2 separate regions of the Homo sapiens genome follow, and region 1 is linked to region 2. Evidence: fine-mapped expression QTL. A gene starts in region 2. The other region holds a variant in brackets. All regions are shown on one strand. Distances are from middle to middle. Region 1 holds the start of LOC112543491 (linc-UFC1). Region 2 holds the start of B4GALT3 (beta-1,4-galactosyltransferase 3).

What was found.
Region 1: its variant is fine-mapped to the expression of B4GALT3 in whole blood (INTERVAL, PIP 0.98).

What each region holds. Positions count from the first base shown.
Region 1 is chr1:161,131,916-161,148,755 of GRCh38, reverse strand. It overlaps LOC112543491 (linc-UFC1), which reads right to left and starts at 13,606. Exons shown (of 1, transcript NR_156734.1): 1 at 10,814-13,606. It overlaps LOC124900457 (small nucleolar RNA ACA64), which reads left to right and starts at 7,420; the gene lies at 7,420-7,548. It overlaps DEDD (death effector domain containing), which reads left to right and starts at 16,089. Exons shown (of 6, transcript NM_032998.3): 1 at 16,089-16,205. RefSeq lists enhancers at 15,625-15,934, 16,396-16,840 and silencers at 15,955-16,304, 16,355-16,574. The variant TG/G (reference allele first, on the strand shown) is at 7,135.
Region 2 is chr1:161,174,041-161,187,482 of GRCh38, reverse strand. It overlaps B4GALT3 (beta-1,4-galactosyltransferase 3), which reads left to right and starts at 9,976. Exons shown (of 8, transcript NM_003779.4): 1 at 9,976-10,060; 2 at 10,904-11,049; 3 at 11,409-11,675; 4 at 12,255-12,490; 5 at 13,434-13,442. The coding sequence starts at 11,423. It overlaps ADAMTS4 (ADAM metallopeptidase with thrombospondin type 1 motif 4), which reads left to right. Exons shown (of 9, transcript NM_005099.6): 9 at 1-3,181. It also overlaps a transcript of PPOX not described here. RefSeq lists enhancers at 1,715-1,764, 2,535-2,734, 5,059-5,118, 8,149-8,650, 9,789-10,288 and silencers at 9,887-10,056, 10,267-10,316, 11,156-11,205.

The DNA of each region.
Region 1 (16,840 bases), 40 kb after region 2:
TGCTCACATGAGACAAGAAACTAAAATTGAGAAGACTGGGGCTGGGCGCGGTGGCTCACGCCTGTAATCCCAGCACTTTGGGAGGCCGAGGCTGGCAGATCACGAGGTCAGGTGATCGAGACCATCCTGGCTAACATGGTGAAACCCCGTCTCTACTAAAAATACAAAAAAATTAGCCGGGCGTGGTGGCGGGCGCCTGTAGTCCCAGCTACTTGGGAGGCTGAGGCAGGAGAATGGCGTGAACCCGGGAGGCGGAGCTTGCAGTGAGCCGAGATCTCGCCACTGCACTCCGGGCTGGGCGACAGAGAGAGACTCCATCTCTGAAAAAAAAAAAAAAAAGTGTGTAGTCCCAGCTACTCGGAGGCTGAGGCAGGAGAATGACGTGAACCCCGGGGGGCGGAGCCTGCAGTGAGCTGAGATCGCGCCACTGCACTCCAGCCTGGGCGACAGAGCGAGACTCCGTCTCAAAAAAAAAAAATAATAAGGAAGAGTATGTAGGCCTGAGCCTCACTGTTTTTCAGAGGAAGAACTCATTCATGAGCAAATGTTTATGGAGTTCCTAATATGTTCCAGGCATTGGAAATACAGTAGTGCATAGGCAGGTGGGCTCCCTGTCCTCATGGAAATTATCCTTAAATAGTTATAAAAAGGAATTCAGCCAGGCGTGGTGGCTCACGCCTGTGATCCTAGCACTTTGGGAGACCGAGGTGGGTGGATTGCCTGAGCTCAGGAGTTTGAGATCAGCCTGGGCAACATGGTGAAACCCCATCTCTACTAAAATACAAAAAATTAGCAGGGTGTGGTGGTGTGTGCCTGTAGTCCCGGCTACTTGGAGGCTGAGGCAGGTGAATTGCTTGAACCCAGGAGGCAGAGGTTTTAGTGAGGTGAGATCGCACTACTGCACTCCAGCCTCAGCAACAGAGCAACATTCTATCTCAAAAAAAAAAAAAAAAGAATAGAAAAGGATTGATTAAATAGCTCAATTCTAGGAAATGTAGGCAATGCAATAGGACAGTTGGGTGCATCGGAGAACCCCTGAAGGTAGTTGAAAGCCCCACTGTCTGTCATCATGGGAAAAGGCAGCTCCTGGGACAGAAAGAGAAGTGAATACTGGATTAGAGAAATAAATCTTGGATTAGGGAAAAAAGAGGAAGCTTTTCCTCTGTTCTCTATTTTTTATTTTTTCGTGAGACAGAGTCTCGCTCTGTTGCCCAGGCTGGAGTGCAGTGGCATGATCTCGGCTCACTGCAACCTCTGCCTCCCAGGTTCACGCCATTCTCCTGTCTCAGCCTCCTGAGTAGCTGAGACTACAGGCACCTGCCACCACGCCCAGCTAATTTTTTGTATTTTTAGTAGAGACGGGGTTTCACCGTGTTAGCCAGGATGGTCTCGATCTCCTGAGCTTGTGATCCACCCGCCTCGGCCTCCCAAAGTGCTGGGATTACAGGTGTGAGCCACTGTACCCGGCTCCTCTGTTCTTTAAGGCATTGGTCTGGACTCTAATATGCTGGAAAATAACTCAGAACGGTGAAAGAAATGATAGCTCTGCTATAGGGAGGAAGCCACGTTATAGAAGATTAGTGTAGATGGACAGTAAGTTTTGGAAGTTATTCTCTTTTGTTATTACCTTTAATTATCCTGGAGACTTCAACAAAGAATTATGGTAAATTGTAGCTTGGTCTCTTATGCTATGAGAAACTGGGTTCACACTTAGAATCACTTGGTAAAAAGAATTATAATATTAAGCTAACATTTATACGGTGCTTATTATGTGTTTGGCACTGTCCTAAACATTTTACAAACATCAGCTCCTTTATTTCTGGTTATAACCCTGGGGTGGGTTCTCTCATTATCCTCATTTACACGTGAAGAAATTGAAGTACAAGTTGAATGAAAGAAAGCCCTATCACACAGCAATTAAATGGTAGAGACCTGGAATTCAATCCAAGCACAGCCTGGCTCTAGAAGTCACACACTTAACCAATTGATATACCTTTCTACCATCGCTAGGCCAATATAAAATTAGCAGCAGGGATCTGAGCGATTAGGAGCAGTAGCAGGGGGCTATTGATGGCCCTAAATGGCAGACAGTGATCAATAATGAACCTGTTTCTGAAAACACAAGGAGAGCCTGGTGGTTCTCCATTAAGCACAGTAGAACTGCAGGGACTCTAAACCCCCCCTCCCTTGAATGGGCTGAGGTATGTGCAGCACCTTCTGTGGTATTGGTATCACCCTTAGGGATTCTGGAACTACAGACTTTGCGTTTAACCATTAATGGGACTTCATCTCTACCTCCTCTTTGGGTAGGAGAAACTAATATGGTGACAATTACCATAAAATAAGAAATCCCAGGGGGAGGGGGGAGGGATAGCATTGGGAGATATACCTAATGCTAGATGATGAGTTAGTGGGTGCAGCACATCAGCATGGCACATGTATACATATGTAACTAACCTGCATATTGTGCACATGTACCCTAAAACTTAAAGTATAATAATAATAATAATAATAAAAAGAAATCCCTATTCTGGAGATATACAAAGTACTGTCTGAGTAACTATGCCTGAGAGAATCAGATATGGCTGATGGCCTTTGAACTGGAACTCTTAGGATGAATACATTAAACATGCAGGCAAGGAGAGAGCAGGGAAAGCACAAATATGATAAAATGCGAACAAACTTTTACATACATTTGATTTTAAAATATTTACTTCTGAATAGATAATACATGCACTTGCCCCAAATTTAAAAAGGACAAAAGAATATACGGTGAAACCTATGTTTCAGAGTTTTGCTCTTGTCACCCAGGATGGAGTGCAGTGGTGCAATCTCAGCTCACTGAAACCTCTGCCTCCTGGGCTCAAGTGATCCTTTCACCTCAGCCTCCCGAGTAGCTGGGACTACAGCAGGCACATGCCACCATGCTCAGCTAATTTTTGTATATTTTTGTAGAGACGGAGTTTCATGCCACGTTGCCCAGGCTGGTCTCGAACTCCTGAGCTCAAGCAATCTGCCCACCTCAGCCTCCCAAAGTGCTGAGATTACAGGCATGAGCCACTGCACCTGGCCTACTATCTTTTCAGATGTTTAGTCTCCATTTGTATTTCCTGTTCTGTACAATATTTCATTATTATTCATTTATTTTAGAGATAGAATCTCCTTATGTTGCCCAGGCTGGTCTCGAACTCCTTGGCTCAAAGGGACCCAGCCTCTCAAGCAGCTACATAGAGGTGCATGCTACACCCAGCTCTGTTCTGTAAAGTCTTACCTCCTTTCCCCCTTTTAAATTATTATTCATTTTTCTTTTCTTTTCTTTTTTTTTTTTTTTTGAGATGGAGTCTTGCACTGTTGCCCAGGCTGGAGTGCAGTGGCGCGATCTCGGCTCACTGCAAGCTCCGCCTCCTGGGTTCACACCATTCTCCTGCCTCAGCCTCACGAGTAGCTGGGACTATAGGCGCCCGCCACCACGACTGGGTAATTTTTTGTACTTTTAGTAGAGACGGGGTTTCACCGCGTTAGCCAGAATAGTCTCGATCTCCTGACCTTGTGATCCGCCCACCTCGGCCTCCCAAAGTGCTGGGATTACAGGCGTGAGTCGCTGCGCCCGGCCTATTATTCATTTTTCTTACTGATTTGCTTTTTTTTGAGATGGAGTTTCACTCTTGTTGCCCAGGCTGGAGTGCAATGGCGCGATCTCAGCTCACCGCAACCTCTGCCTCCTGGGTTCAAGCGATTCTCCTGCCTCAGCCTACTGAGTAGCTGGGATTACAGGCATGCACCACCACGCCCAGTTAATTTTGTATTTTTAGCAGTGACAGGGTTTCTCCATGTTGGTCAGGCTGGTCTCGAACTCCCGACCTCAGGTGATCCACCCGCCTTGGCCTCCAAAGTGCTGGGATTTGGGAGTGCTACAGGCATGAGCCACCATGCCCCGTCTTTTTTTTCTTTTTCTTTTTTTTGAGATGGAGTCTCGCTCTGTTGCCCAGGCTGGAGTACAGTGGCACAATCTCAGCTCACTGCAACCTCCGCCTCCCAGGTTCAAGCGATTCTCCTGCCTCAGCCTCCTGAGTAGCTGGGACTACAGGCGCCTGCCACCACGCCTAGCTAATTTTTGTATTTTCAGTAGAGACAGGGTTTCACTATGTTGGCCAGGATGGTCTCCATCTCCTGACCTCGTGATCCACCTGCCTGGGCCTCCCAAAGTGCTGGGATTACAGGTGTGAGCCACTGCACCCAGCCTTTTTTTTTTTTTTTTTTTTTTTTTTTTTTTTTTTTTTTTTAGACAGATTCTTGCTCTGTCGCCCAGGCTGGAGTGCAGTGGTGCAATCTCAGCTCACTGCAACCTCCACCTCCCGGGTTCAAGCGATTCTCCTGCCTCAGCCTCCCGAGTAGTTGGGATTACAGGTGCCCACACCACGTCCGGCTACTTTTTGTATTTTTAATGGAGACAGGTTTCTCCGTGTTGGCCAGGCTGGTTTTGAACTCCTGACTTCAGGTGATCCTCTCACCTCAGCCTCCCAAAGTACTGGGATTACAGGCATGAGCCACTGTGCCTGACCTGATTTGTATTTTTTTTTAAATATTAACATTAAAAGGATTAGCCATTTGTGATGAGTTGTAAATATTTTTCCCAGTTTGTTATTTGTCTTTTCTTTTGTTCATAATATTTTAAACAATATGAAAAATTTTCACATATGAGGTTATCAGTATTTTGCTTGTAGCTTCTCGTGGTGGTGTCACCATAACAGCAGTCTCGATTATTTTTTAAAAATTTTCCTCAGGCCCAGCGCGGTGGCTTATGCCTGTAATCCCAGCACATTGGGAGGCCAAGGCAGACAGATCACTTGAAGTCTGGAGTTCGAGACCAGCCTGGCCAACATGGTAAAACCCCGTCTCTACTGAAAATACAAAAATTAGCCGGGTGTGGTGGCAGGTGCCAGTAGTCCCGGCTACTCGGGAGGCTGAGGCAGGAGAATCGTTTGAATCTGGGAGGCAGAGGTTGCAGTGAGCTGAGATTGTGCCACTGTACTCCAGCGTGGGTGACAGAGCGAGACTCAGTCTAGAAAAAAAAAAATTTCCATTAGTGTTTTTACCCCCAAAAATTACAATGGCTTTATTATTTGTTTTAGCTTATTTGAACAATAGAGAAAAATAAAATTAACCCAAAAATACCACCCCAAGAGATTTTAAAAAGCCACTATCATTTTAGGTATATATTCTTCCAGACATCTCTATGTACACATTTCCAATCTTCTAAATCCTTTCAGTGTAATTCACTGTTCTAGGTTCTTGAGATGGATGCAGAACTCACAAATTCTCAGCTTTTCTTTCATCCTAAAATTTTTATTTATTTATTAACTTACTTATTTTAAAAGAGACAGGGGTCTCCCTATGTGGCCCAGGCTGGTCTCAAACTCCTGGCCTCAGGCAATCCTTCTTCCTTGGCCTTCCAAAGCACTGAGATTACAAGTGTAAGCCACCACATCCAGGCTCTTTTTTCTTATGTGCTCTTAAGACTATGTATTTTCCTCTAAGCACATTTTTTTCTTTTCTTTTTTTTCTTTTTTCTTTTTTTTTTTTGAGACAGAGTCTCACTCTGTCGCCCAAGCTGGAGTGCAGTGGCATGACCTTCGCTCACTGCAACCTCTGCCTCCTGGGTTCAAGCGATTCTCCTGCCCCAGCCTCCCGAGCAGCTGGGATTACAGGCACACGCCACCATACCCGGCTAATTTTTGTATTTTTAGTAGAGACAGGGTTTCACCATGTTGGTCAGGCTGGTCTCAAACTCCTTACCTTGTGATCTGCCCACCTTGGCCTCCCAAAGTGCTGGGATTAACAGGCGTGAGCCACCGCGCCCGGCCCTTTTTTCTTTCTTTCTTTCTTTTTTTTTAAGACAGAATCTCGCTCTGTCACCCAGGCTGGAGTGCAGTGGCGCAATCTCGGCTCACTGAAACTTCCACCTCCCAGGTTCAAGTGACTATCTCGCCTCAGCCTCCTGAGTAGCTGGGACTACAGGTGCCCACCACCACGCCCGGCTAAGTTTTTGTATTTTTAGTAGAGATGGGGTTTCACCATTTGGTCAGGCTAGTCTCCAACTCCTGACCTCAAGCAATCCACCTGCCTCAGTCTCCCAAAGTGCTGGGATTAAAGGTTTGAGCCATGGTGCCCGGAATGCTTTGTGACATTTTAAATTATCACTCAGGTCAAAATATTTTCTAACTCCAATTGTGATTTATTTTGTGGGTCATTTAAAAATGTATTCAGCACACTACAGCCTTAAACTCCTGGAATCAAGGGATCCTCTGGCCTCCAAGTAGCTGGGACTGCAGGCATGTGTCATTGTGCCCGGCTGTATTTAACTTGTAAACATAGGGACTTCCCAGTTACCTTTTTGTTACTGATTCTAGCCTCACTGTAATGTAGGCAAGAAACATACTTTGCATCATTTGAAGCCTTTGAAATTTGTTGAAACTTGCTTTATAGAACAATCTGGTCAGTTTCTTAAATGTTCCAAATGTGCTTGAACATGTGCTTTGTAATTTGAAGTCGTTGGGTATAGTGGACTCTATACGCTTGTTGAATCAAATTTACTGCTCGTGTTATTTAAATTTTCTATATCCTTGCTGATTTTTTCTTATTCTTTCTCTTTTTTTTTTTTTTTTTTTTTAGAGAAAGAGTTGGTCTCATTTTGTCTCTCAGGTTGAAGTACAGTGGTGCCATCATAGCTCACTGCAGCCTCAACCTCCTGGGGTCATGTAATCGTCCCACCTCAGCCTCCTGGGTAGCTGGGACTATAGGCATGCACAACCATGCTCAGCATATTTTTTTTTTTTTTTTGAGACGGAGTCTTGCTCTTGTCACCCATGCTAGAGAGCAGTGGCGCGATCTTGGCTCACTGCAACCTCCGCCTCCCGGGTTTAAGCTATTCTCCTGCCTCAGCCTCCTGAGTAGCTGGGATTACAGGTGCCCGCCACCACACCCAGCTAATTTTTGTACTTTTAGTAGAGACGGGGTTTCGCCATGTTGGCCAGGCTGGTCTCGAATTCCTGAACTCAGGCCCGCCCCGGCCTCCCAAAGTGTTGGGAATTACAGGCGTGACCCACCGCGCCCGCCCCTAATTTTTTTTTTTTT[TG/G]TAGAAATGAGGGTCTCCCTATGCTGCCCAGGCTGGTCTTGAACTCCGGCCTCATGCAATCCTCCCATCTCAGCCTCCCAAAGTGCTGGGATTACAGGCATCAGCTACTGCACCTGGCCCTGACTTTTTCTATCAGTTCTGAAAGAAGTATACTCTATTAATTGAGAGAGGTGTGCTAAATCTCCTACGATGATTGTGAACTTGTCTATTTTTCCTTGTAGCTCGGTGCTGTATATTATTTGAGGTTTTGTTAAGTGCATACAAATTTAGAAATGTTTTCCGGCGTTGGTTGAAAATCACCCCCGGTTTTGGCCGTGGCCGCGGGTGAAATTCGGCGCGCAAGAGCCTCCGGGGGCCTCAGCTCACCGCGTGCTGCCGCCATGTGCGACGGTGAAACCCAGGCCCCGACAGGGGCCGCGGCCTCCCCCCGGGTGTGGCTGCTCGCGTGGTCTGACCCCTGACTCCTGACCCCGGCTGCAGACCCCTAACCCTATTTTTCTCTCCGCAGGACACTGGTCCTCCTACGCCTGAGACCGACGTTGCCAGGACCGCAGGGTCAGGGGGACTTGGCTGTCCCCCGTCTTTCAAATAAAGCTGTTTGTCTAAAATAAATAAATAAATAAATAAATAAATAAATAAATAAATAAATTTATTTTTTAACTTCCTGGTGAATTAAACTTATTGGTATAAAATGTCCTTATTTCTAGTAATGCTTTTTGCCTTCAAGTCAACTGTGTCTGATTTTAACATAAGCTTCTTTTGGTTTATGTTGCATAGCTTATCTTTTCCTATAATTTTACTTTCAACCTTTTGATAACCTTATTATTGTTTATTTATTTATTTATTTAATTTATTTATTTTTGAGACAGAGTCTTGCTCTGTTGCCCAGGCTGGAGTGCAGTTGTGCGATCTCGGCTCACTGCAAGCTCTGCCTCCTGGGTTCATGCCATTCTCCTGCCTCAGCCTCCTGAGTAGCTGGGACTACAGGCGCCCGCCACCACGCCCCGCTAATTTTTGTGTTTTTAGTAGAGATGGGGTTTCACCTTGTTAGCCAGGATGGTCTCGATCACCTGACCTCGTGATCTGCCCGCCTCGGCCTCCCAAAGTGCTGGGGTTACAGGCGTTAGCCACTGCGCCCGGCCTATTGTTATTTATTTATTTAAAAAAAAATTTTTTTTTGAGACGGAGTCTCGCTCTATCACCCAGGCTGTAGTGCGGTGGCACAATCTCAGCTCACTGCAACCTCTGCCTCCCGGGTTCAAATGATTCTCCTGCCTCAGCCTCCTGAGTAGCTAGGATTACAGGCACGGGCCACCACACCCGGCTAATTTTTGTATTTTTAGTAGAGACGGGGTTTCACCATGTTGGTCAGGCTGGTCTCGAACTCCTGACCTCAAGAGATCCACCTGCCTTGGCCTCCCAAAGTGCTGCAATTATAGGCATGAACCACCACGCCCAGCCTGTTATGTTATTTGAAAAAGAATGGTCTGGAATATAAGAGCATTTTTACTTAATTGAACAACCACCCAAAGAAAAATTGGTTAATTCTCTAATTAACTGGTGGGATTGGTGAGACAGGGTTGTTTTATGTTACGGTCTTTGGAATAACCAATGACTTGGAAAAAGTCATCCCCATGGGGGCAGCAAAGAGTCATTGATAAAGAGCCTGCTGAATTTCTGAAACCTGGTGAAACTTGTTATATATAATACAATAATAAATATTAGGTAACATTTATCCAGCACTAGGCCCTGTGCAACACTTTCTATACATCATTTAATATAATCATTAAAACAATGATCTGTAAGGTGGATGTTATATTTCTTTCACAGATAAGAAAACAAGTTTAGAGAAGTTAAGGAACTTGCCTGTCATATTAGTGAGGGTCAGAGCTGGGGAATGAAGAAAAGGGAACAGGTTGAGGCGACTTGAACAGCAGATCACTAGGATTCAGCAACTGATTGTGGTCCCTACTCCTTTTTTCTTTTTCTTTTTTTTTTTTGAGGCAGCAGGGTCTGGCTCTGTCACCCAGGTTGGAGTGCAGTGGTGCGATCTTGGCTCACTGCAACCTCGGCTTTCCAGGCTCAAGTGATCCTTCCACCTCAGCCTTCTGAGTAGCTGGAACTATAAGCACATGCCACCATGCCTAATTTTTGTATTTTTTTCTGTAGAGACAGGGTTTGGCCATGTTACCCAGGCTGGTCTTGAACTCCTGGACTCAAGCAATCCACCCGCCTCAGCCTCTCAAAGTCCTGGGACTGCAGGTATGAGCCACCATGTGTGGCCGAGGTCCCTACTCTTTTATTCGGGAGCCATAGAAGCCAGAACTGCAATAAATTCTAGTTCTGGACTTAGAGCTAGGTTCCAAGCTGAACTGAAATTAGGAGGAGCCAGTAGTATAATGCCTGGATGAAAATGAGTAACTGGGGCAGCTTAGAGTTAATAGGAAACCAAGAATAGAGCAGATCATCAGGTCAGCAAGTCCCTGCAGAGTAAAGCAGAAGAGTAAAGCCCTGGTAGGGACACAGGGATCCGAGTGGCCCTGGAAGAGTCAAGAGGATACTTGTGACAAGGGGCTAGTGCTAGCAAGATAGAGACTTCTTAAGGGAATATCTGGTTTGAAAAGATTAATCTGGCAGACCTGGGAAGGAACATGGACTAGGACAAGCAGCCTTAATAGAGTATTCAGATCAAGAAAGAGAACAGATCTGCTTTACTCTAAACTGGTACTACCACTGACTTGTAAAAAAATATTTAGTAGGGACATGTGGCTATGATGTGTTGACCCAGAGAGAAAAAACAGAACCAATACATGGAAGTTACAAAGAGATTTATCTAAGGATAGTAAAAAGGCCTTTCTAATTACTGAGAATTACAGGGAGTTGAAAACTACAGTTAAGGACACAGTGGAAATGTGAGCCTGTGGATAGCTGAAGGGTTCCAGGTTACAGATTCCAGTGAAGGAAGAGGTAACTGTGGGAGTAGTGTTTTGATAAGTAGAAAAGGATGGGCATCAGGATAGAGCTGAAGGGGCCAGTCTTTGAAAGCTGGAGGGATGTTTTCTCAGCTGAGGAAGAGACAGGAACTAATGTAAAGGAAGAAACATAACAAGCAGAGGACTTCCGCAAGAGAATTCTACACAGGGTTCTCAATCTTCTCAGAGGAAGTTCCCCCAAGTTTTTAGTTGAATTAAGGAGAGGGTGGTTCATAAGGCAAGAGATGAAGTTTTTGTTTTAACTGTACAGATGATGTATAGTTTAAGCTAAGGAGGAACAGCAGTCTAGCTATAGCTAACAAAAAACTCTAAACTGTTTGAAATATTTTTTTCTCAGTGATGGACATGAGGGTGCCCATCTCTACACAGGAGGTCCCTTTGGCTTAGCTCAGGAAATCTGCACAGCTCTCTTTGTTGGCGTTACGATCTTAGGACTTCATGTTGAAAGAGTGAACTTCCAGGGCTCCCCAAGCAGAAAATATCCCTCCAAATAAACTGACTAGTTTAGGAACAGCTGGCCAGGCAACTGTCCCAATGTTTGGAATTTGGAAAATTTGGTCATTGAAGTCTGGCCCCAGGGAAAAGAACTGAGTTCTGTGAGTCCTGCAGGGGAAGACAGATTACTTTGGAAGGCCTAATGAAGGCAAATCTCAGCCCTTCCTTCACCTTTCCATTCTTTTTTTTTGAGACAGAGTTCAATTCTGTTGCCCAGGCTGGAGTACAGTGGCGTGATCTTGGCTTACTGCAACTTCCACCTCTCAGGTTCAAGCAATTCTCCTGCCTCAGACTCCCGAGTAGCTGGGATTACAAGTGCATGCCACCACACCCAGCTAATTTGTTTATTTTTTAGTAGAGATGGCGTTTCAACATGTTGGCCAGGCTGGTCTCGAACTCCTGACCTCAAGTGATCCTCCTGCCTCAGCCTCCCAAAGTGCTGGGATTACAGGCATGAGCCACCGTGCCTGGCTAAGCTTTCCATTCTCAGTGAAGAAAGTGATCTGTTCTCTTCCCCATTGGTTGCAATAAGCAGACTGGACATCATACTATGACTAGAAAAGGCAATCCTCAGCTTTCTCTAATCCTCTGAATGGAATTGGGTTAGGTTTGGAGAGGAGAGGTGGGTTCATGGAAAGGAATTACCATCATGGTGCCAAGACTACTGAGTGTCAAACCACTTCAGAATATGGATACGGAGGGAGAATATTATTCTCCTTTAAGAAGTAGTGCCTGTGTCTGTCTTTTTTGCGGGCTTATGTGGATTACATCTGCATTCCACACATCACAGCTACCTCTGTCCTGATGGCTATTCCTCTAGGAAAAGCTAAGGAGCAATCTACGAAGACAATGAATACATAAGGGAGATTGTTTACAAAAGAAAAGTGTTCCAGTGGGTATAGAGGAAAAAATGGTCAGAGGTGAGGTAGAAATTTTTTACTTTCCCCAATTAATGAACACCTTTTCCCTTCAACCTTCTACAGGCTGTTTATTCTTGCTCCTGTAGGAAGGCGTGGCAAGGTATCAGCTTTCTCTTTGCTACCCACTGCTACTTTTAGACCACTGTGCTTCCATCCTCTTGCAAAAATTCTTCTCCCTTTGAAGCTTATGCCATCTGGCTTTACTGCCCTTTAACACCTTTTTTTTTTCTTTTTCTTTTTGTAGTGCAGTGGCAATAATCATAGCTCACTGCAGCCTCAAACTCCTGGGCTCAAGTGATCCTCCAAACCCAGCCTTCAGCACCTATTAACCTCTTTTTGTGCCAACTCTTACTATCATCCTGGGAGGTTTTACAAAAACCCATGAAAAATACAGTTAGTTCCTGACCTCCAACTCCAACGAATACTCCCACTTTCAATTCCTTAATTTCACCATTTCTAGAAAAACAGGTTTTTGTTGATGGCAGCTTCAGGGCCATAGTAAGGACTGGGAGAGGGTAGCATTCTTCTTCTTTTTTTTTGAAACAGGGTCTCGCTATGTCACTCAGGTTGGAGTGCAATGGTGCCATCAGGACTCACTGCAACCTCAAACTCCTCAGTCTCAGGTGATCCTCCCACCTCAGCCTCCCAAATAGCTGGGACTACAGGCAAGTGCACACCCACCTAATTAAAAAAAAATTTTGTAGAAATGGGGTCTCTCACTATGTTGCCCAGGCTGATCTTGAACTCCTGGCCAAAGTATTGGGATTACAGGTGTGAGCCACCACACCCAGCCAGGGTATCATTATTAAGTGTAGTAAGATTGATGGTGCCAGCACTGGCTGGTGTTGACTTGAAGACTCACTGAAAGACTGGGACTGGCAGCCATGATGCATAAGGGCAGAATAGCCTGGGGGTTGTACTGCCCAGTGATACTTGGGGAAAGGTTCAAGATCTGGATTTGACTCTTGTGCCAAGCTTCCAAGAAACCTAGGTTCAGAGGTAAGAGCACCTTTCCTATCAGCTGCCTCTGTGGGGACATCTGACACTTTCAACATCCACCCCCTTGAAATACTCTTCCCTTTGATTCTGTGACAATTATCTCCCAGGTTTTCTTCTTCTTCACTCGCTGTTCCTTTTCAAAGATTCTCCAAGAGCTCTTTTTCTACTTGTGCCTTAAATGTTGGAATTTCCGAGAGCACTCTTCTTAGCCCTCTGCTCTTTTCTGGGGAGCTTATCCAAATCTATGGCTTCAACTACCACCGAAATGTTGATGTTTCAGAATTTCTGGCCTATATATCACAGGGCTTTCTAAAAAGTAGTTTTCTGGCCAGGTACCATGGCTCACGCCTGTAATCCCAGCACTTTAGGAGGCCGAGGAGAGTGGATCACGAGGTCAAGAGTTTGAGACCAGCCTGGCCAACATAACGAAACCCCGTCTCTACTAAAAATACAAAAAATTAGCCAGGCATGGTGGCGTGCACCTGTAGTCCCAGCTACTCAAGAGGCTGAGGCAGGAGAATTGCTTGAACCTGGGAATCAGAGGTTGCAATGAGCTGAGATGTGCCACTGCACTCCAGCCTGGGTGACAGAGCGAGACTGTCTCAAAAAAGAAAAAAAAAAAGTAGCTTTCTGTAAAATAATATGTGCATAATAAAATAATTTCAAGCAATAAAGATAGATGTAAAATGAAAAGTATAAGTCTTATCCCTCCTAGGCCCACTCTTCATAATTTTTTAATGCATGTGTAAATGTGTCATATTTATTCTGTGCTTGCTTTTTTTCTCCACTTATATTTTTCTCTTAAGTTTTAGATCTGTGTATTAAACATGCCACTAGGACATATCTATCTAGCTATCTCACAGGTACCTAAAACTTCTTCACCTTCTTTGGAATTCTCCCTCCTGCAACACCCTACCACTAGTCTCCTTTTTACATCAACACCATGAAAAAACTGTCTTTATACGTTGTGCCTTCTCAATTCAATCTGGTTTCTATCCACCATAACTACAAAACAGCTTTCTCCAAATTTCCTAAATGACCTCCTTGTTGCAGTATCTTTTTTGGGGGGACAGAGTCTCACTGGAGTGCAATTGTGCAATTTCGGCTCACTGTACCTCCGCCTCCTGGGTTCAAGCGATTCTCCCACCTCAGCCTCCCAAGTAGCTGGGATTACAGGTGCCCGACACCATGTCTGGCTAATTTGTGTATTTTTAGTAGAGATGGGAGTTCCACCATGTTGTCCAGGCTGGTCTCGAACTCCTGACCTCAGGTGATCGGCCCACCTCGGTCCCCAAAGTGCTGGGATTACAGGTGTGAGCTACCACACCTGGCCTTTTTATTTATTTGTTTTATTTACAAAAAAACCAAAGTCTTGTTCTGTTGCCGAGAGTGCAGTGGTGCAATCTTGACTCACTGCAACCTCCGCCTCCTGGGTTCAAGTGATTATCATGTTTCAGCCTCTGGAGTACCTGCGATCACAGGTGCGCACCACCATGCCCAGCTAATTTTTGTATTTTTTGTAAAGATGGGGTCTTGCCATGTTGACCACACTGGTCTCCAGCTCCTGGTCTTAAGTGATTCACCTGCCTAGGCTTCCCAAAGTGCTGGGATTACAGGTGTGAGCCACTGTGCCTGGCCCTTGTTGCAATATCTGATAGATACATTTTATTTACTTTATTTTATTTTTTTGGAGACAGAGTCTCACTCTGTCACCCAGGCTGGAGTGCAGTGGCACGACCTCAGCTCACTGCAACCTCTGCCTCCTGGGTTCAAGCGATTCTTGTGCCTCAGCCTCCCCAGTAGCTGGGACTACAGGCGCGCACTGCCATGCCTGGCTGATTTTTGTATTTTTAGTAGAGACGGGGTTTCACCATGTTGACCAGGCTGGTCTCCAGCTCCTGACATCAGGTGATCTGCCCGCCATGGCCTCCCAAAGTGCTGGGATTACAGGAGTGAGCCACAGCACCCGGCCTATTTATTTCATTTTTTTTGAGACAGGGTCTTGCTCTGGTGCCCAGGCTGAAATGCAGTGGCGCGATCTCGGCTCACTGCAACCTCTGCCTCCTGGGTTCAAGCAATTCTCATGCTTCAGCCTCCCAAGTAGCTGGGATTACCGGCATGTGCAACCACACCCATCTAATTTTTTTTGTATTTTTAGAAGAGACAGGGTTTCACCATGTTGGTCAGGCTGGTCTCGAACTCCTGGCCTCAAGTGATCCACCCGCCTCGGCCTCCCAAAGCTAGGATTACAGGTGTGAGTCACCATGCCCGGCCCTGATGTATATATTTTAGTTAGCATTTTACTATATCTCTGTTACACTAAACGCTTTCACCAGTTTCCTTGATAGTTCTCTATGGTTTTCTTCTTTCCTTTCGGTTTGCCCCTTCTCAGTGTTCTTTTCGGCTTCCCTCATCCTATCCCGCAAATGCAGGTATCCTCTCCAGCCCACTTCATGGCTTCAACAGCTATCTATATGCACACGCACACACACCTCAAACCTTTCTTTTGAGTTCCCAACCCACATTAGCTAATATCCCAGGGGCACCTAAAACTCATTATCTCCCCCCTAAACGAGAAAGAAACTGGTATCATTATTCCCCAGTTGTCCAAGTCACAACATTCGTACCTCTTAAACCAATCTGTATCTCCCCATCCGCACTCTCCCTTCCACAGGCAGACCATCATCATCCTTGCCTGGAAAAGAGCCTCACAACTGCTCTCCTTGATTCTCCTCAATTCATTCATCCTTCACACTGCACGCAGCGATCTAAAATGCAAATGAAATTGTTCACACCTCTGCTGAGATTCTTCAAAGACTTTTCATTGCCTTAAGGATAAAAATCAATTAATTTACAAGGCTTCGCATAATCTGGTCTTCCCCTATCTATTACCACTTTCTTAAGCCACACCAGAACGTACCCGCACCATCCTCCCCACCCCCAATTCCCAACAGCCCTACACGGATCAGCTAGGCGACACTTCCTACAGGAAACCGGCGTTCAAAAGGTAAATGCTGAACAAATGAATTCCGAGACGGGATCTGGGCACCACTTTCGGCTCCGGATCCGGGTTTACGGAACGTCCGGGTTATCAGGAAGCTCAGAGGAAAGGTGAAATCCAGATCTTGACCCTTCACTCAAGTTCGCCAGACAAACCGATCCCCGTGGTATTCCGCCCTTATGAGTCATGGCTGCCAATCCCAGCCTTCCAGTGGGTCTTGAAGTCGCCACCAGCCAGCTGTGGCGCCACCAATGTTTCCCATTCAAGAATGCTATCCTCTTCGATCCCTTATTACCGCCCTAAGCAGCCGTCAAGACAAACCGGCGTTGCCAGCTTGCCCCAAAGCAAGATGGCTGCCAATCTCTATCTCTCCTCCCGAAGTGAAGCTATCCACTCCCCGATTAATGCCGCTGCCAGGCTGCCCTCACTTACTATGGCTACTCCGGCTCATGTCTCACTATGGCCTCGAAGCCGCCACTAACCGGCCGGGTTCCGGGAGGCGCCGTTCAGGATGCAGCCACCCCCGCCCGCCTGTCCCCTCCCCCACGGCCGCGGCGGCGGCGGCGGCGGCGGCTGCTGGAGCCCGGATGCGGCGCCGTGAGGCAGGCCCGGGAGAGCGGCGCGGATGGATCCAACATGGCGGCGCCGAGCCTGAGCCGAGAGTGAGGCGGAGGGGCGGCCGGAGTGGGGAGAGGGAGTCGAGCGGGACGGGGCGGGGCCGGGCGGGGCCGCAAAGGGCTTGGGGAAGGAAAGTGGAGGGGGAGGCGGTGGCGACGTCCAGCCTGAGAACCTCAAGAGAGGGAGGTGACGGGACGCTGAGAGGTGGGGGAGGGGAGCTGCCGAGGGGGGCGTGCAGGGGAGATGGCAACTGCGGGAGAGGGCAGGGGTCGAGACGGAGGAGTGAGGGCATGGGGAGGGGCGTAAACAAGGGCTGAGACTGGGCCCAGCCAGGGGTATTAGAGAGGCCGAGGTGGGGAGTGGGGCTGCGATCCGCTCGTATTGAAGGGGGTAGGAGCAGGAGGGAGAGGCTGAGGGTGTGAAGGGGAAGGGGGCTGTGGCATGTGGTTGGAGGGAGGACTGGACTCTGATGAGGGGTGTTGCGAGGAGGTGGGTAAAGGTCAGAATTGGAGTTAAGACGTTTCTGGGGGGCTTCGAAAGTGTTAAATTGGAGGTGGGAGGGGGAAGGGCCTAGGGGAGAATTTGGGTGGAAAAGGAGAGAACGGAGGCTTGGGGAATGGAGAGAGTGTCGGTGGGAGGAGGTAATGGAGAAAGTGAGAGACTGGGAGGAAGAAAGTTT
Region 2 (13,442 bases):
GTAAACACGGTTCTCCCTGCTAGGCTTGGCCCCCTGGCCCTTCCTGTGGTCCTCCTACTAACCAGGCTGAAGAAGATGGAGACAAGACAATAGTGATCTTTACTCGTTTCATCTAGTTTGCAAAATGAGACCACAGATAGTATGTTTATGGACCTTGATACTATGAGTTGATGGTACAATGAGCAGAGTTCTGTGATAAGTAGATGTAAGGTACAAATACAAACAATATATACGACTGTCCTAAAGGGGTTCACACTGCATTCTGGGCAGGGGAGGTTGTATACTGCTCCCACTCCACCTTCCCCGCAAACAGAAGCAATGGGACAGTAAAAGGGACTAGAAGATAAGAGCCTAATGAGCCCTGAACTGAATGGACTATGAGGGTTATGGAGGGCTACCTTGGGCTGGGCCCTGGAGAACAGGTCATCATGATAGCCCTTCTCACTTTCCTTTAATGTTCATGGAGATACACTTTTTTTTTTGAGATAGGGTCTCCCTTTGTTGACCAGGCAGGAGTACAGTGGTGTGATCTTGGCTCACTGCAGCCTTGAACTCTCAGGCTCAAGCAACCCTCCCACCTCAACCTCCTGAGTACCTAGGACTACAGGCACGAGCTACCACACCCAGCTAATTTACTTTTTTTTTTGGTTGAGACGAGGTCTTATCATATTGCCCAGGCTGGTCTTGAACTCCTGGCCTCAAGGGATCTTCCCACCTCGATCTCCCAAAGTGTTGGGATGACCAGTGTGAACCACCATGCCTGGCCTTTTCTTTTGAGACAGTCTCGCTCTGTGGCTCAGGTTGGAGTGCAGTGGCACCATCATAACTTACTACAGCCTTGAACTCCTGGGCTCGAGTAATCCTCCCACCTCAGCCTCCTAAGTAGCTTGGACTACAGGTGTAGATTCACTTTTAAATCACTTTTCTGCCTGTTATTTTAAGAGAAAGCCCTTCGCTCACCAAGTAGGGTTCTCACTGGCATAAGTAAGTTTTTCTGAAAATGAGACTGAGCTTAGGGGCCACCTCTGTGATTGGGTAAGTAAGCAGGAGCTAGAGTGAAAGAGGGGCAGAGAGAGCTAGCTCATCGAAGAGAAGTGATGGGCATCTCAGCCCTCAATCCCAGGCAAGGCCTGACCCTTTTCTGGAATGGTCTCTGCCTTACCACACCTCCAAGACCCAGATTGTAGGTAGGCTTTACCTAATAGGAGTCCAACAAGTTCTTGCTAGGGATGGGATTGTGGGGGGGCACATATCTCCCTGTAAGAGCCACAGTGAGCTCTGTTTCCCATCTGCCTACTTATTGCCCTCGTGGGCCTGAGCTGGGGTGTAGATATATAAGGAGGAACAGAAACAGTAATAACAGGAAGTAAGGAGGCACTGAAACAATTCAAGTATCTGGTCCTGGAGATGAAAAGAGGAAATGGAAAAAGAAAAGGCATTGAATGACAAGGGATTAGAACCCTGTCCCTAGAGAAGTTCAAGAAGAGTTTGGACAACCATTTTATGAGATGGCAAGTGTTGTGCATGAGTATGTGTTTGAGGTGGGGGAGGAAGTTGAAGCAATAAGTTGGGCCAATTTCCTAAAGTCCCTTCTGCCCCTGAGATTCTCTGCTTCTGTGGTTCAAACAGAGGAAATCTGGACATTTGTCCAGCCACTATTTTTGTAATGGAGGTGGGACAGCCAGGGTTCCTGGAGTGTGCTGTGGAATCGGCATTTACACTTCTCTTCCATCTCTAGTCTCATTTCTGTAATCTTCATACAGTATTACAGTATTTTGTTTTCTAAAATACCAGATTGGCAGTAAGTGACAAAACTAGCATCTCATTGGTCAGGGCTTGTGGGGGAGGAAGGGAGAAGAAAGTGGATTTCAATGTATTAACATTTTATTGGCTGAGAGGATGTTTCTGAACCAATTGAGTACCTTCCCCATTGACTGTTGCTGGGGCCAAGCCAAAATCATTGGCACCACGAGAAACCAGATGACAGCTGGAGGAAACCACGAGTGCTAAAAATGCTCAGAAAGAGGGGGGTCAGGGAAGGCGGGGGAGCAACAACACTGAACAACTTCCCCAGGCAGGATCTTACATGGGGACAGACCCAGGGTACTTAAGTAGCATTAGGAAGGAAAGGGAGGGGAGGAAGTAGATTAAGTATCCCTCACAGTCTTGGCACAACAAACAGGCACCATACACCCACACCAACAGTGACACATTGACATAACACACATCCAACTTCACAGAGACACACTAGCACATTCTCTCTTTTTTTTAAAATTTATTTTATTATTATTATACTTTAAGTTTTAGGGTACATGTGCACAATGTGCAGGTTAGTTACATATGTATACATGTGCCATGCTGGTGTGCTGCACCCATTAACTCATCATTTAGCATTAGGTATATCTCCTAATGCTATCCCTCCCCCCTCCCCCCCTGCCTTTCTTTTTCTTCTTTTTTTTCTTAAGACAGATTCTCATTCTGTCACCCAGGCTAGAGTGCAATGGCGTGATCTCGGCTCACTGCAACCTCCACCTCCCAGGTTCAAGTGATTCTCCTGCCTCAGCCTGCCAAGTAGCTGGGATTACAGGTATGCACCACCATGCCCAGCTAATTTTTTGTATTTTTAGTATAGAGACGGGGTTTTCCATGTTGCCCAGGCTGGTCTTGAACTCCCGGGCTCAAGTGATCTGCCTGCCTCGGCCTCCCAAAGTGCTGGGATTACAGGTGTGAGCCAGGGTGCCTGGCCAACACATTCTGTTGATAATATAGATGCAAATAAGTAGTAGGGAGCGGAAAATGTAAGAATTTTCACCTGAAAATGGATCTGAAGAGTAAAAGATATTAATTGACCTAATCGTGCATTGAGAATTGACTGTTTATCCCATTTATTTGTTCAATAAATAAGCCAATGGGTTGTAAACATTGTAAACATTCCACAGCATGTGGAAAGGACATGGATTTTTGGAGTCAAATTGAATCTAAGCCTTGCTACTTACTTACCTGTAATGATGCAACCTTAATTACTTGATCTCTGTAAACCTCAGTTTCCTTACCTACAAAACGTTTGTACTATTACCTGCCTTATAGAGAGGTCCAGACTTAAGAATATGATGATGTAAATGTTTGGCACTGTGTCTGGCTTTTAGTAAGTGGTCAATAAAGGCCAGTTCTCCTTTCCTTATATCTCTTCCTTTGTCTGCTCCCTGACTTCTAACCCCTGCATTCACGTGAGAAAACAGTTATATCAAGGAACTGTCTAGGTCAGATCTAAGGGCCATTTTGTAAATTTGTGCAAAAAGTTCTGGCTTACATTGAAGGGATGATAAAAGGAAAGACATGGTCCTAATCCTCAGAGTTCACAATCTGGTGGCTGAGACAGTCAAGTAGGACAAAAATTTCAGACTTCTGTGATAGGTGCCATGATCAAGGAGGGGCACCTAGCACAGAATATGAGGCCACAGAAGTGTTTCTGGAGGAGGTGCCTGTCTCTCCTTCTAGAAGTGAGCAGTAAGGCTGGGCACAGTGACCCATACCTGTAGTCCCAGCACTTTGGGAGGCCAAGGTGGGAGGATCACTTGAGGCCAGAAGTTCAAGACCAGCCTGGGGGACATGATGAAACCTGGTCTCTACAAAAAATACAAAAAAAGGCAGGGTGCAGTGGCTCATGCCTGTAATCCCAGCACTTTGGGAGGCCAAGGCAGGTGGATCATGAGGTCAGAGTTCAAGATCAGCCTGGTTTGAGAATCTGGTCTCTGGTTCGAGACCAGACCAGGAGTTCGAGACCAGCCTAGTAGATAGAAGATGAAACCCCATAGCTACTAAAAATACAAAATTTAGCCAGCACGGTGGTGGGCACCTGTAATCCCAGCTACTTGGGAGGCTGAGGCAGAAGAATTGCTTGAACCTGGGAGACAAAGGTGGCAGTGAGCCAAGATCATGCCACTGCACTCTAGCCTGGGCATCAGAGCAAGACTCCATCTCAAAAAAAAAAAAAAAAAAAAAAAAAAAAAAAAAATTAGCCAGGTGTGCTTGTGCACGCCTGTAGTCCTAGCTACTCAGGGAATGGGGTGGGGGCTGAGGTGGGAGGATCACTTAAACTCAGGAGGTGGAGGCTGCAGTGAGCTGTGATTGTGCCACTGCACTCCAGCCTGGGTGACAGAATGAGAACTTGTTTCCAAAAAAAAAAAAGAAAGCTGTAAGACTGCAGGGAACCCATGGATGGTGGGAGGGTGTCAGGGGGGCATGATTTCTGTTTGCTAGGTCAGGTTCAGGTTCTTCTATGTTATACAAAACCAAAGTGAGGTAAAGAGGTAAAGAGAACAGACCAGAAAACCAGAAACTGGAGGATAATATGGTAAGAGAAAGAGCTGAGTGGGAGAGAGATCTGGAACAACAGTGTAGGCTGAGGGGAGTTGGAAGGGATAGTTTTGGGAAGAAATAACATCCAAGTAGAAAATGTTGAATGGAAGAGGGAGAGGAATATTTTTTTTTTTTGCAACAGAGTCTCCCTCTGTTTTCCAGGCTGGAGTGCAGTGGCGCCATCTCCACCTCCCAGGTTTAAGCAATTCTCTTGTCTCAGCCTCCCGAGTAGCTGGAATTACAAGCGTGTGCTGCCACACCCGGCTAATTTTTGTATTTTTAGTAGAGACAGGGTTTCACCATGTTGGTCAGGCTGGTCTCGAACTCCTGACCTCAGGTGATCCACCTGCCTCGGCCTCCCAAAGCGCTGGGATTACAGGCATGAGTCTCTGCGCTCGGCCGAGACAGAGGATTTTAAAGACATTGGGCTGTCCATTAAAATGTGCTCCTAATCCACTGCCCCTTTCCCCTGTCTCTGATATTTCCTTGAGAAATTAAGTAGAGATTTAAATTAGTTTTTGATTACTAAACTGGGTTTCTTCTATTGTGTTATGTGCCATGACTGGGCCAGTGTGGGCCCCAGGATTTATTCAGAATATTGAAAGACAGGATGTTGTGGTGGAAACCAGCATGTTAAAATTTAAGTTTTCAGAAACATAACAGTTCTAGGTGATGACTAAGTCCAGGGTGTGGCCAGGGTGAGACAGAGCAGAAGGGAAGGTTCTTGAAAACAGGGAGCTTACAAATTAATGTAAAGGAATGGCCAGAAGATAGTAGATAGGCCTTTGTGGTGGCTCACAGGAGGCTCACTTGAGGCCAGGAATTCAAGACCAGCCTGGGCAACAGAGTGAGACTCCGTCTCCACAAAAAACTAAATTAGCTAGGTACACACCTGTAGTCCTAGCTACTTGAGAGGTTGAGGCAGGAGGATCACCTTAACCCAGGAGTTCAAGGCTGCAGTGGGCTATAATCATGCCATTGCACTCCAGCCTGGGTGACAGAGTGAGTCTCTGACTCTAAAAAAGAAGATGGTTAGATACAGAAGGAGACAGAAAGTGAAGGCTGGGCGCGGTGGCTCAAGCCTGTAATCCCACCACTTTGGGAGGCCGAGGTGGGCAGATCACCTGAGGTTAGCAGTTTGAGACCACCCTGACCAACATGGAGAAACCCCGTCTCTACTAAAAATACAAAATTAGCCGGGCGTGGTAGCACATGCCTGTAATCCCAGCTACTTGGGAGGCTGAGGCAGGAGAGTTACTTGAACCCAGGAGGCGGAGGTTGCGGTGAGCTGCAGATCATGCTGTTGCACTCCAGCCTGGGCAACAAGAGAGAAACTCCATCCCAAAAAAAAAAAAGAAAGTGAGGGTCAGTCCTGTAAGACAGAACGCGATGGAGGAACAGAGGCTCAAAGGAAGGGTCCTCTGGGAGAACCACATTTTCTCTCTTTCTCTCTTTCTTTCTTCTTTGAGACAGAATCTGGCTCTATCACTCAGGCTGGAGTAGTGCAGTGGTGCAATCAGCTCACTGCAGCCTTGAACTCCTGGGTTCAAGTGATCCTCCCACCTCAGCCCTGTGAGTAGCTGGAACTACAGCTGTGAGCCACCATGCCCAGCTAATTTTTGTATTTTTCTTGGAAGGGAATTTTGCCATATTGCCCAGGCTGATCTTAAACTCCTGAACTCAACTGATCCACCTAACTGGGCCTCCCAAAGTGTTGGGATTACAGGCGTGAGCCATGATGCCAGGCCAAGAACCACATTTCAATGATCTGTTTAAGTCTGTCTTTTCCACTACACAGTGATATTCTTAAAAAATCAAGGCTTTTTGAGTTATACTATATCAGAAGCTAAAAATAATAATAAAAAATAATAAAAGTAAAACAAACAAAAAATCAAGTTTGGGAGGCCATAGCGGGAGGATCACTTCAACCCAGGAGTTTGAGACCAGCCTGGGCAACATAGTGAGACTGTCTCTTCAAAAAAAAAAAATTATAATAAAAAAAATCAAGGCTTTGTCTTGGCTTCTATTTGTGCTCAAAAGTTTTCCATAGTTCTAATGATCACAAAACCCCTTAAGGCTAGAGTTCATTTTACAGATGAAATCCAGAGTGTATTGCTCAGTACACAGCCAATGGGTTTCAAAGTTGGTATTGTATTTAAACCCAGCATTATCTCATTTTGAGCCTTCACAGGCACCTCAAACTCATTATGTCTAAAGTTTGTCATCTCTACCCCTTCCCCAAAATGTGCTTCTTCCTAAGTTTTGTTTCTCATTAAATGGCACCACCCAGTGGTCCAAATTAGAAATCTGGGTGTCCTCTTGGAGTCCAATTCCCTAACTTGGCACATCCAGTCAATCTTCAAGTCCTGTTTGCCTCCTGAAAGTTCCCAAAGTTACTTTCTTCCCTCCAGTCCCACGGGTATTACCTATTCTGCATGAGCTTCATCTTATTCCTGGATTTCTGCAGTAACTTTCTAAATAGTCTCCCTGCCTCTGGTCTTGACTACTTCAATTAGTGCTCCACATTTCCTAAAGTTCTGATCATAGCACTCTCTATTTACAGCACTTTAATGCCTTCTTCTTGCCCTCTGGATAAGACCCAAACTCTTTTAGCATGGTTTGTGGAGTCCTTCATTATTTGGCATTTGCTTACCTCTCCAGTCTCATATCTCAACATTCCCTTCACTCTACTGTCCAGCCTTGCGGGCCCAGTTTTAATTTCCCAAACTCCCTAATTTCTTCCTCATTTCCAGAATTTTGCACTTATGGTTTCCTCTGCTTGGAACACTATTCATCTGTTAAAAGTTAATTTTCTAGCTGGGTGTGGTGGCGCATGCCTGTAATCCCAGCTACTCGGGAGGCTGAGGCAGGAGAATTGGCTGAACCCAGGAGGCGGAGGTTGCGGTGAGCCAAGATGGTGCCATTGCACTCCAGCCTGGGCAACAAGAGCAAAACTCTGTCTCAAAAAAAAAAAAAAAAGGTAATTTTCAGAAGAAGGTAAAATTATGACCCTTAAACTGTTGAAGAAAAAATTATTCTGACACTTGTTAAAACAGTAAGGAAGACTATTGCAATAGTCAATGAGCAGAATCAGAGTCAGTGGATGGAAGGAAAATTACATTAAGGCTAGGAGGATTCTTGCTAAACTGACCTAACAGGATCTTTCCTGAAGGCAGGTGAGGGTGATCAGATAGATCAGCTATCAAGGGTGGAGAAGCGGGCAGGGAATTATCCCTAAACTGACTTGGCAGGATTCTTGCTATAACTGGCTAGGCAGGCCCAAGACAGCGCATAAGGACAAGACCTAGCCAAAAAGAGGCCTTAGAGGAGCCTGTTGAAAGTCTGGTTAAGGAGATGGTCTTTGTCAATACCAACATAAAAATGAACACATAGGCCGGGTGCAGTGGCTCATGCCTATAATCCCAGCACTTTGGGAGGCTAAGGTAGGTGGATCATGAGGTCAGGAGTTCAAGACCAGCCTGGCCAAGATGGTGAAATCCCGTCTCCACTAAAATACAAAAATTAGCCGGGTTTGGTGGCGGGAGCCTGTAATCCCAACTACTCGGTAGGCTGAGGCAGGAGAATCGCTTGAATCCGGGAGGCGGAGGTTGCAGTGAGCTCAGATCGCACCACTGCACTCTAGCTTGGGTGACAAAGCAAGACTCCGACTCAAAAAAAAAAAAATTCTCCTTGAAGACTGGGTATTTGGGAAAAAAAAAAAGGAAAGGAAAGGAAAAAAAAGAAGGAAGGGAAGGGAAGGGACGAAGGGAGGGAGGGAGGAAGAAGGGAAGGAAGGAAGGAAGGAAGGAAGGAAGGAAGGAAGGAAGGAAGGAAGGAAGGAAAAAGAGAAATAAAATTAAGAGGCCTGATGCTGTGGCTGACGCCTGTAATCCCAGCGCTTTGGGAAGCCAAGGTGGGCAGATAGTTTGAGCCCAGGAGTTGGAGACCAACCTGGACAACATGGTAAAACTCTGTGTCTTCAAAAAATACAATTAGCTGGATGTGCTGTTGTCCCAGCTACTCAGCTACTCACGGGTCTGAGGTGGGAGGATCCCTTGAGCCTAGGAGGTTGAGGCTGCAGTGAGCTGTGATCTTGCCACTGCACTCCAGCCTGGGTGACAGAGTGAGACCCTGTCACAAATTTTTAAATTAAAAAAAAAAAAGTAAACAAAAAGGCCGGGCGTGGTGGCTCACACCTGTAATCCCAGCACTTTGGGAGGCCGAGGCGGGTGGATCACCTGAGGTCGGGAGTTCCAGACCAGCCTGACCAACACAGAGAAACCCTGTCTCTACTAAACATACAAAATTAGCCGGGTGTGGTGGCGCATGCCTGTAATCCCAGCTACTGAGGAAGGCTGAGGCAGAGGTCGCGGTGAGCCGAGATAGCGCCATTGCACTCCAGCCTGGGCAACAGGAGGGAGACTCCCTCTCAAAAAAAAAAAAAAAAAGTAAAGAAAAAAGAAATTAAGAAAAGAATGAACACGTGTTTATTTTACCTAACTCATGAAGAAACTAGCAGATGTTATAATTAATACAAGAGAAAATCTAGAGAACGGACATATTTATGGATCAGGAAAACAGAAATGAATATGAAAATGGACGCCAAAACTGCTTTTTTTCCCCACAGTGTGGGGAACAGCAGGTTAATTGAACCTCTACCAGACAGGATAGAATTTGCATACAGATCAGTTACCTACATGAATTGTAAAATAACTCCCATGAAAACAGAATCTTTAAAGCAGAAGGATATGCTATAGACAAGTCCTTCAGGTTTCCCATTAGCCATCACTTCTGGGAAGCCTTTCTAGAATCTCCACGTATGAATGAGTTGCCACTTCTAGGCCAGCATATTTATCACGTTATATTGTTTACATCCCTCCCTCCATACAAGATACACAAGACCATGGGCTTTTTGGGGCAGATTCTGTGAGTTATTCAAGTCTCTGATTGCTTCTTCAGCGTGAATATCTGCTTCTAAGGAACACAATATGCTAGGCGGTAGTGTTTGTCGTAAGGTAAACATATTGCATGTTAACGGAGCATCCATTTTACTCTAATATCTGGGGAAACATCATTTGACTTTAAAGAAGACGCTGTCTTTCCCTCCACCTTCAATGTTTCATTGTTTTATTAACTAATCGCTTTTTATTTCCAGGCCTGCGGGATACAACGGGAATACAAAAATGCGCTAGAGCGGTCCGCAACGCTGTAGCCTGCGTAAGGAACAATTGATACTAAGTGGCACTAGGCTGCAGGGGGTGCCACTGACACACTGGGAGAGGGCTCAGCCAACCACAAGGTGATAACGAGGTCAGCGGAGCACCAGAAACCGGCTCACTAGCCTCCTGATCAGTCTCGGCCCAGAGGAAAATGAAGGGCTTGAGCTTCTGCTTTTACAAATCTGAGGGGCAGGAAATGAAATCCCACTAGCAGTCTGCGTAGTGGAGTTGAACCCTAGCACCCGCTCCCCAGGGGGTCGCCTACAACGCGTTCCAGGTGGGCAGGCTCAGGCGCTGCTCCCTCACAAGCCCCCGGCCACGCGGTGTCTGGGACCGGGTGCCTAGTCAGCCCGGGTGGCTCCGCCCCGAGGCCCCGCCCCATGACGCGAGACCCCGCCCCCGCAGCGCCCGCTTCCAAGATGGCGGCAGCGATGCCTGCCCGGCTGTTGGGGTGGCGGTGACGACAGGCAGCAAAAGACCAGGTATGTGCGCTGGGAATGCGTCGACACGGAGGCCTGGGATAAAGGTTTGGGCATTCGAGAGAGTGAGAAGTTTTGGGTAACGCCTGGAGACGAGCCTGAGCAGGGACGGGGTCCTAGGTGGAAGTATGGACGGGGGCCGGGCGGGCTCACGTTGCTAGTAGGTAGGGCAAAAGCAAGAGACTGGGATAGGATGGGCGTGCTCCGAAAGAGCTGGGTTTTAACCCCCTCCACAGCGCGGACCACGCCCCTCTAGGTGAGCCCTTCCAGCCACCCCTGACTGTCTCTGCCCCTGCTCTCCCTCTCCCTTTCTCTTCAGCAGTAACCCTCCTCCCCACCCCCGCTAGAAGAGGGGAAAGGTAGAAAAGGTAGAGGACGCCACCCCCACCCTACTCTCCGCCGAGCTCCGGGGCTGTTCGCTTACAGCCCCCAGGTGGTCACGGTCCCTGCACCTGAGGAGTTGGCACCCAGGCACATGAAGAATAGAAGGAGCCTGTTTCCTACTTCGCCCTGGGTACTCCTTAGGCCACTCCACGGTCCTGTCATGACTCTGTCGCCACTTCAACTGGTTCTTGGTCTGGGGGAAAACAATGTTTCCATTAGCTGTCCTGTCCCCACTCCCCAATCTGTCCTGTTGGGGTGGGGGTACGGGGGTGGTTAAGTATGAACCTGACACTTATCATTCCAGGGTAGCACGGGAGATAGGCGAGGGACCTACCATCTCCTGCTCCTCCTCTTCCTTTCCAACCACTTTCCTTCACTTCGCCTGCTGGGAAACCAGCTTCACCCTGATCCTGATCTCTGGCGGTGCAGGTAGCTAGTTATCCTTTACCACTTCTGTTCCAGCTGGTCCCAGATTCGCTGCTGGAGTGCTGGATGGAGCCTTTCTCTGCCCTCTGTGACATTTCCAATTTTAGATAATGCCTCACATCTCTGTCCCCCCGGGACCCCCTGGAGCCCCCATGATCCCTAAGAAGACAGCTTGAACCTAGGTGAGTCTATCTCTTCCCTTCTAAAATTGGAAGAGGGGGTTCTCTAGAGACTTTCTGAAATGAACATGAGATTTGAATGATGTAAACATTTTTGGGGGTGAGGACTGACAGTAGATGGTGGGAGTGGTTTGGGGGGAGGTAGAGGAGAGCGAAACTTGGGCTGAAGTGACAGGTGGTAGGGTTACTGGTGGTTACATTCTGTTTCCTTGCGTGACTGTGCACCTGTGTGCTCCCTTCTGTGACTTTGTTTTCTGCTTTTTCCTCTTTACCCCTGGCATCACCTTCAACCCTACCTACTGACCTCTCTGCTGGCTTGCTCTCTTCCTGCCTACCCCCAGAATTCCCCTCTCCCTCCCTAGATCTCACCCCCAGGATGTTGCGGAGGCTGCTGGAGCGGCCTTGCACGCTGGCCCTGCTTGTGGGCTCCCAGCTGGCTGTCATGATGTACCTGTCACTGGGGGGCTTCCGAAGTCTCAGTGCCCTATTTGGCCGAGATCAGGGACCGACATTTGACTATTCTCACCCTCGTGATGTCTACAGTAACCTCAGTCACCTGCCTGGGGCCCCAGGGGGTCCTCCAGCTCCTCAAGGTCTGCCCTACTGTCCAGAACGATCTCCTCTCTTAGGTAAGTGCAGGAGGAAGGAGGTGGTGAAAGGAAGGACAAGGTGCGGAGACAGGGAGGCTTGGGGATAGGGAGGCATGGAGTGGCAGAAGTGGAACTTAGAAGAGGATAGGTAGGCTGAGGCTGCAGGTAGGCTGAGGTTGAGATAGAGGGCTGAGGTTGAGATAGAGTAGACTCTGAATTGGGAGTTTAGATTAGACTATTGGGTTTCCACTTTCTACTGCTTGTCCCTTTATGGGCTCTTCCTGCCCCAGGCTAGGAATTGTTTTCCTTGTAGATGAGCCCTGGTTTAATTAGTTGCAAGTCTCTCCAGCCTTCAACTATAGCTTCCAACCCTGTAAGACAGGAGAAAGTTAGGCAACCCTAAAATAAGAAGAGAAGGCTAGGTAAGGATCCTGCACCTTCCAGCCTTTGTAGAGCTGTCCCAGTGATAGGTAATCCAAGGCATGCGAGATTTCTGAGTGAGCCCTGAGAACTAAGCCCCAGAACCAGACTGCCAGTGTCAGAGGTATTCCCAAACCCTAGTTTGATTCTTTTCTCTTTGCCCCTCTGATCCCTCTACTTGCCATTCCTTCCCAACAGTGGGTCCTGTGTCGGTGTCCTTTAGCCCAGTGCCATCACTGGCAGAGATTGTGGAGCGGAATCCCCGGGTAGAACCAGGGGGCCGGTACCGCCCTGCAGGTTGTGAGCCCCGCTCCCGAACAGCCATCATTGTGCCTCATCGTGCCCGGGAGCACCACCTGCGCCTGCTGCTCTACCACCTGCACCCCTTCTTGCAGCGCCAGCAGCTTGCTTATGGCATCTATGTCATCCACCAGGTACCCCCAATCTCCACCTCATTTTGACTGACTTTCTTCTAAGGAAGCCTCAAGCACATGCCACTTCACTTTCATCTAAATGGGTCCCTAGAATAATTTTAAGAAGGCCAGACTGTTAGAGTGTGGAGAAGCACCCGGCACTGCTCTTCCAACTTTGTTAGTCCCATACTTTTCCTTAATCTGCTTAGGTTATTCCCACTGTCCTACACTCTCCTGTGATTTTTTCTTTATTGAATGGCTTGTGCAGAGTTGGAATTGGACACAATAGGGCTAAAATTCTAGTTCCGTCACTTGTTACATGTATGACTCTGAGCAAGATACTTAAACATCTAACATGAGGAAAGAGCATAAGATAACTAATATACCATCTGTTCCACACCACACCATTGTTGGTTGCCAATTGTCAGGATTAAATGTTAGACAGCAGCATCTTAAGTATCAGGTCCATACCAATACACAAGCAAGATTTGTCAAATGACTAAGTGGAAAAATGAAAAAGATAGTCTTTCTTTTTCATTCTCCTTGCCCTCCACCCCACTTTGATTTCCCTCTTTTCACTTTTATTCTTTTTTTTCTTTTTTTTTTTTTTTGAGATCTCACTCTGTCCCCCAGGCTGGAGTGCAGTGGCACGATCTCGGCTGACTGCAAGCTCCACCTCCCGGGTTTTACGCCATTCTCCTGCCTCAGCCTCCTGAGTAGCTGGGACTACAGGCGTGTACCACCATGCCCAGCTAATTTTTTGTATTTTTAGTAGAGATGGGGTTTTACCGTGTTAGCCAGGGTGGTCTCAATCTCCTGACCTTGTGATCTGCCTGCCTTGGCCTCCCAAAGTACTGGGATTACAGGCGTAAGCCACCGCGCCCGGCCTTCACTTTTATTCTTTAGCCCCCTTTTCTCCGTGCCACCTACAGACATAGTCTGGTTCCCCTCCATTATCTTCCAGGCTGGAAAT